Homo sapiens: one gene and its partner. The protein of the gene in region 2 purifies or fractionates together with the protein of the main gene of each other region. This does not show direct contact. Each region holds a gene or a part of one and is shown on either strand. Other genes may lie near its edges.

Region 1 (4,237 bases), on a different chromosome or scaffold from region 2:
TGTGGCCGATACTGGTAGTTGTTCAAGCTGTGTCTGTGGTGCCCTGTGATGGCCACCAAGCCCACTCCTGTCAGGTCAGCACCTGCCTGTGGAGCCTCTGGTTCACTGTGGGGCTCCTGAGCTGAGCCTGAAGGACCCTGGGGTCTGAACAGCAAAAACTCACTGAGATCTCCACACAGAACACAACAGGCTCAGCACCTGCTGTCTCCCCGTCTAGTGTTAATCATGCGTCCACCCACAGAAGACCCTCAGCCATGGTGACACTTCTTAGAGCACTTTGGGCCTGGCTGGGGCTGGAGGGAGAGTTTGCTGATCAAGGCTGTGGGGTCTGCACAGGCGGGGTCAGCCAGCACCTGCAGTTGATGTCCTAGGAGGTCAGGGCTGGGCCCGGGGGAGCCATTGACCCTGGTGGGCGAGCGACAGCTGCAGTGTTTCCCTCCTGGCCACAAGACACCTTTGAGGTCTCTCCTGCGCACAGAAGCTCGCAAGCAGGCACGCAATGGGTTCAAAGCCTTTATTGGGTCAGGGCTTGCTCCAGAGCTCAGGGGCCAGGTAGGTCAGGAGCCTTGGGATGGCTGCAGGGGGAGGGAGGCCGGGCAGCCTGCGGAGGGCCTGGGGAGACCTGGGGCTGGGCGGGGGCCGGGGCTACGGGGACCCCGTGGGAGGAGCTGGAGAGGTGCAGGCCCAGGGCGTCGTCCGAGTGAGCAGCGGTGCTGGCCGTGTGGGACCCGGGCCCGCTTAGCACCATGGACGGGGTGGGCTCACGACCCTCGACTGCGGGGCCCGGGCGGCGGCGCTAGCAGATCCAGCGGATGAAGCGGTCGAAGAAGCCGGGTTGCGCCAGGCTGTCATAGTCCTTCTCGTGGAACACGGCGGCGCGGTCACCCAGGCTGAGCGTGGTGAGCACGTCCATGTCCACGTCGCTGCCCAAGGCCAGCACGGTGGGTACCACGTTCTGCTTGCGCATGGAGTGCGCCGACTCGTGCAGACTGTCGTTGCCCGTGACGCCGTCCGTGAGGAACACGAAGGACAGCTCTGCGTGCCTCCGGGCCCCGCCACGCGGGCTGCGCACGATGGCATTGATGGCGTGCACCACGCCTGCGCCCACGTGCGAGAAGGAGTTCAGGTATTGTGTGGTCTCCAGCGCCTCGTGGATGGCCGTGAGGTTGTGGCTCAGCGGGAAGGCCACCTGCTGCTCGCCGGGGCCACCAAACTGCAGCAGCGCCACGCGTGCGTTGAGAGGGTCGTCGTCCCTCCGGGCCAGCGTCAGCCGCCGCGCCACCTGCTCCACGAAGCGCCGGGCCTTGTGGAAGTTCTGCTCACCCAGCCGCTCGGAGCCGTCCAGCAGGAAGACGATGTCCACGGGCCGCTGCGTGCACTGTGCCACGGACAGCTCTGTGGGGAGACGCAGGTGCGGGCTGGGCGGAGGGGAGGTGGGCAGGACCGGGCAGGTGCCAGCCCCGCACCTGTGCCCTTCCATTCGCACCCTGCCTGCAACCTCACAGACCACTGGGCTCTGCGGGGGCGTTTCTGCAGGGCAGCCCTGGGTGTGGGTCCTTAGCCCAAGACACTTTCAGGCGGCACTGCTGGGAGCCGCCATCTCCTCTGCTGGTGCTCCCAGGCCTGAGACCCTGACACAGGCCCCAGGCCCTGTCCACCTGCTGAGCACCATCCCTGCACAGGCTGCCCTCCTGGGAGGGAAGGGGCCCAAAGCATCCTTTCATGGCTCAAGAATTTGCTGCCCACAAAAGGGCCACTGTCTGTGTAGTGTGGGAGGTACTTAAGGAGGACCCTGGCTCTGACACCCCCAGCCTGACCCCTCAATCGCTGGGTCCCAGAGCTGCTCAGAACACCTAGAGCTGGCTGGGCCACGTCCCTCCCGGAAAGACCAGGAGCCCCTGACTCTTCTGATTGGCCATGGTGGGGAGCAGTGGGCACAGGGGCAGCCAGACCTTCTGTGGCAGCCCAGGTGGGTTCTGCCCTATGACTCTGTTACCAAGTGGGGCCCCCACCTGCCTGGGTGGTCACCAGCCCTGGGCATCGGGGACAGCTTGGGGGCCTGGCCATAGCCACAACCCAGGCCAGGCTGCCTACCACACGTGTGGGTGTCACGTGGGGCCAGAGACCACAGGACAGGACACGGACAGTCCTTGCGTGGACCTGGCCCTGTGGCCTCACCAAGACCTCAGCTCCTGGGATGGGGGAGGGGAGGGACAGAGCCAGTTTCCCCAAGGGTGTCTGCTTCTCAGCCCAACCCCTGGACGTCGTCACAGCTGGTACATGGACCCCCAGGAATGCACACAGAGGACCCTGACCCGAAACTCGGTTTCTGGGGGCCCTGGAGGTGCAACGGTCCAGCCCCGCAGGCAGTGAGCAAAGCTCTGAACACAGCAGGGTGACCTCACGCTGCACCGCAGCCTTCACAGAACGCTTGAGACATGGACGCCGTCTGAGCACGCACGAGCTGGCAGATGGGGTTCCCTCAGTGAGCTTATGAGTGACGCAGCTCATTCAGTGAAAGGAAGGGCAGCCTCCCTGTTAAGGCCACACCTAGGAACCGGCTTAAATGTCCAGAAACTCCTCAGGTACCGCTGGGCTTCCCAAACCCCCTCAAAACTAATAACATTTTCACTGCTGTCACCAAACATATGGAGACAGACATGCAAGGGGCAGCTGGTTTTGGGGGTCTCTGTCCATTCATCAGTGTCTGTGGGGCCTGGAGGAGACGGGGAAGCTGTGGGGGCCGGCCAGGCACAGGGAGGCTGAGGCTGTTGGGATGTCTGTGGACTCTGCTCTCCTCCTCCTGTGGAGGATCCTTCATCCCCACAGTGGGAAGACCAGCCTGGCCTGCCCTGTGCAGTGGGTGTGGGGACGAGAACCTGGCCCTGAGAAATGGTCACAGCCGTGCCCGGCAGGAGCCCAGCCTGGATGAGGGCTCCTGCAGTCAGAACGTCGGGGTCAGCTCGCCGTGGGGGCCGCTCCCTTTGGATGGTGATCCCTGCCGCTCCCCAACATTGTGGACCCTGGGATTCTCTGCTCAGTCCTCTGAGGACCGCAGAGGTTGTGCCTGGTGGATGCTCCCCCGACTGTGCTTTTGGAGACCCAGAGGTTGGGCTGGAAGGGTGCAGACACCCCGGGATCAGGGCTGCTGGCAGGCAGCTGTGGCCATTCGCCCTACTGTGCATGACACCAGCCCAGATACGTCATGGTGCCAGGACTGCCAGCTTCCCCCAGGACTATCTGCTGCCCAACCGGAAGCCTTCACCTGCCACCAGGTGGGCCGTGAGCGCCCACGAGTCACCATGCACGGGATTAGTGCCCACACCCAGCGAGGCTCACCAGCCTCTGGGGCCTGTTTCCGAGGCTCCGCTGGAACCTGGTGCTGGAACATCCTCCAGCACCTGGGCAGCACCCTCCCTCAGCCCCATCCCAGACGCACGGCAGCCCAGCTGGGCCGCTAAGTAAGGGCCTCCAAAGACTTCCACACCCAAACCCTGGAGCCTGTGAGGGTGACCTGATGCAGCAAAGAAGGACTCTGCAGACGGGAGTGAGTTAAGGGTCTTGCGAGGTCATTCTGGACTTGGGGTGGGCCTTAAATTCAATGACCAGGGTTCTTATAAAGAGAGCGGCCACAGGAAGACGGAGGAGAGACTGGAAGATGCAGCCGCAGCAAGGGACACGGTGGCCACCAGCATGGGAAGAGGCTGGGAGCTGCCCCAGAGCCCCTGGAAGGACTGTAGCCCCGCTGACCCCGATTCCAGATCTCTGGCCTCCACTGAGAGCCAGCCTGTCGGGGGCAGCCCTGGGAAGCTAGTGTGGCAGGGAGGGCCCAGCCCGGCTGGGCGGGTGCCCGGGCTTTAGCAGAGGGCCAGCGCGGTCTCGGGGTCCCCCACGATGTCCCTGTGCACCAGCTTAAAGGTGTCAATGAACAGCTCCATCCAGTCCTGCCGCTCTACCCCGGTGGCGAACTTGGCCCGCTCGGCGGTGTAGACCAGCACGGCCACCAGCTGGGAGTAGGCGGCCGGGTCCTGCGTGAGCTCCGTGGCGTTTAGCAACTGTTGGATCAGGGGAATGGTCCTGGGGAAGGTGGCGTCCGGCCCCTCTTCCGTGCGGAGGAAGGTGACCGGGGGCTCGCCGCCAGGCCACGGTGCATCTGCAAGGGAGCGTCCAGAGAAGACTGTAAGGCCTGCGGTGGGCGTCGGCCTAGAGCTCCTCCTCGGGCAGCCGCTCAGCGAGG
Region 2 (3,500 bases):
TATCTTAAAATAATCAGACCTAGCAGACATCTATAGAACATTCCACCCAACAATAGCCAAATACACACTTTCAAGTGTGCATAGAACATTCTCTAAGAAATACCATTTTTTAGACCATAAAGACCATATAGGTCATAAATTAAGTGTCAGTATACTTAAAAGGATTGAAATCACACAAGGTATGTTCTCCAACCTCAATGGTTTGAAATTAAAAATCAATAACCAAAGGAAACTTGGGAAATTCAGAAATGTGGAATTAAACAATACACTCCTAACCAATGGGTCAAAGAAGAAATTGCAAGGGAAATTAGAAAATATTTTGAGATGAATGAAAACACAGCATACCAAAACTTATGCGATACACTTAACATAGTACTTGGAGATATAGTTACAGCTGCAAATGTCTCTAGTAAAATAGAATATCTCAAATAATAATCCTCCCATCCATCTTAAGAAACTAGATAAAGAGAAAATTAAACCCAAAGCAAACAGGAGGAAGAAAATAATAAAGGTTACAGTACAAATAAATGAACTAGAGAATAGAAAAACAATAGAGAAAAATCAACAAAACCAAAAGTCAGTCCTCTGAAAAGATCAACAAAATTGACAATTATTTGCCTAAACTGATGAATTAAAAAAAAGTAAACTCAAACTATTAAAGTCAAGAATGAAAGAGGGGTCACTCCTACTGACCTTATGAAAGTAAAAAAGATTATATGATAATACTATGAACAATTGTATGGCAACAAATTAGATAACCTAGATGAAATGGACAAATTGATAGGAAGGTACAAACTACCAAAATTGACTCAAGAAGAAATAGAAAGTAAATAAATAACAAGAAAAGAAGTTTAATTAGTAATAAAAAAAATTTCCATAAAGAAAAGCCTAGAACCAGATGGCTTCACTAGGGGTTTCTGCCAAATGTTTAAAAATTGTTAACACGAATCTTTCACAAACTTCCAAAAAAAAAGAGGAGGAGGGAACACATCCCAGCTGATTTTATGAAGCCAATATTATTTTGATACAAAACCAAAAACATTATAAGAAAACTGCAGACCAATATCACTTATTAATATAGATGTGGAAATCTTCAAGCAAATACTAGCAAGAGAATCCAGCAATTTATAAAAGGAATTATACAGCATGACCAAATGGGTCCCAGGATTATCCCAGGGTTGCAAGTTTGGTTTAACATGTGAAAACCAATCAAAGTAACGTACCATATTAACAGGCAAAAGTCACATGTTCATCTTAATAGACACGGACAAACCATTTGACAAAATCCAATACCCTTTTATGATAAAAATACTCAACAAAATAGGACTAAAAGGGACCTTCCTCAACCCAGTAAAGGCCATCTGTGAAAAACCCACAATTAACATCATACTTAGCAGTGACGGACTGAATGCTTTCCCTCTAAGATCAGGAACAAATCAAGAAACTGCACTCAACAGTTCTATTCAACATTGTACTTGATGATCCAGCAAGGGTAGTTGGACATGAAGAAGAAATAAATGGTATCCAGGTTTGAAAGGAACATATAACACTATCTCTACTTGCATGTGACATGGTCTTGTATGTAGAAGATCCTAAGGAATATACACACACAAAGGAAAAAGTACTATTAGAACTGATAAAAAGGGTTCAGCAAGGTTGCAGGATACAGGATCAATATACAAAAATCAATTGTATTCTTATTCATTTAGCAATGAACAATCTGAAAATAGAACTAAGGAAATAGTTCCATGTACCATAGCATCAAAAGAGTAAAATACTTAGGAGTATATTTAACAAAATAAATGCAAGACTTGTATACTGAAAATGACAAAACATCATTCAAAGAACTAAAGAAGATCTAAATAATAAAAAGACATTCCATGATTACGAATCAGAAGACTTCATATTGTTAACACGGAAATATTCTCCCAGTTGATCTACAGACTCAATGCAATTCCTATCAAAATCCCAGCTGCCGTTTTCTTTATTTGTGGAACTTGACAAGCTAATTCTAAAATTCATATGGAAAAAGTAAGGGACCCAGAATAGCTGAGACAAACTCGAAAAAGAATAACAAAATTGAAGGACTCATACTTCTTAAATACAAAGCTACAGTCATCAAGACGGTATAGTACTGGCATAAGGATAGACATATAGATCAATCAAATAAAATAGAGAGTTCAGAAATAAATCCTTACATTTATGGGCAACTGGCTTTTTACAATGGTGCCAAGACAATTCTACGAGGGAAACGAAAGTCTTTTTAACAAATGGTGAAGGGACAAATGGATAACCATGTGCAAAAGAATGAATATGGATCCCTGCCTCATGCCATATACAAAAATTTACTCAACATAGATCAAATACCTAAATGTAATAGATAAAACTGTAGAACTCTCAGAAGAAAATTTCATGAAGTAAATCTTCATGGCTTTGAAATTGACAATGGATTCTTAGGTATGACACTAAAATTACTAGCAACAAGAACAAAAAATAAATTGGATTTCATCAAAATGAAAAACTCTTTTGCTTCAATGTATACCATCATGAAATTGTGACAATCAATAATGCATAAAGTTAAAGAAAATATTTGACAATTACATATCTGATAAAGGACTTGCATCCAGGATATATAAAGAACTCTCACTACTCAACTAGTTTCCCTGGTCCATGTGGTCTATGAATGGGACTGGTGTTCTTGGAGGTATTTGAAGCAGTGGTTCCTAAACTCTACTGCACCCAAGAATAGGGCTGACAGATTTAGGAAGTGAAAAACACAAAACACTCAGTCAAATTTAAGTTTCAGATAAATAATGGATAATTTTTTAGTATAACCAAGCCCCATGTGATGTTTGGGACAAATTTAACTGGCTATCCAGTATTTTATGGGGCAATCCTGTCTAAGAATCACCTTGAGGCTTCTTAAATGCAGATCCTGGGTCCAGCCTCAGAGAGCATAATTCAGCAGGTCTGAGATGGGACTGAGGGAGCTGTCCCCTTAACCATCCGTGGGGACTCTGATGTGAGTGTCCAGGTCACACTTTGGGAAACACTGATGAGATTCTCTAAGGGAGTCATAAAAACTTCAACAGCTGCTAGCCATACTCCTTAGTTGGAGTTATGCAAATAGAAAACAAAGCTACTGATATTCTAAACCAACATATAACATGGAAAGGCACATTTTATAAAAATCTATGCCTTGAAATAGTTTAGGGTGTCAAATAAAAGGGCAAAGCTGAACAAAATAAAAAAAAAAAAAAAGAAGGGATCTAACTAGGTTCCCTGTGTTACTTTCCTGCCATATTTCCAGGAAAAGTGGCCACTATGATCGGTCCAGGCAGATTGTGGCAGGCATCTCATGCAACAGGAAATGTACACCTTTATGCATTTTCCATCTATTTTCTTCAGATTGACCAAGTTTCAGCACTTTATGCTCTAATTCAGCTCTGAACACAATTCTGAACACATTCCTTCTGTTACACTACAGAAGGCTGAAAACC

The links. Proteins that work in one complex are often made in the same cells at the same time.
Region 1: the proteins of COLGALT2 (region 2) and COL6A2 purify together in Homo sapiens (affinity purification with mass spectrometry; 2 studies listed by BioGRID and IntAct, with this or other methods). This does not show direct contact.

The regions. Positions count from the first base shown.
Region 1 is NC_000021.9:46,129,112-46,133,348, reverse strand, and holds the end of COL6A2 (collagen alpha-2(VI) chain isoform 2C2 precursor), read right to left. Parts: exon of another isoform or gene 4,154-4,237; coding exon of another isoform or gene 3,858-4,153; exon of another isoform or gene 3,548-3,857; intron 1,396-3,547; coding exon 797-1,395; 3' UTR 501-796; downstream 1-500. UniProt on the Homo sapiens protein: Collagen VI acts as a cell-binding protein.
Region 2 is NC_000001.11:183,947,229-183,950,728, forward strand, and holds part of COLGALT2 (procollagen galactosyltransferase 2), read right to left. Parts: intron 1-3,500. UniProt on the Homo sapiens protein: Beta-galactosyltransferase that transfers beta-galactose to hydroxylysine residues of collagen.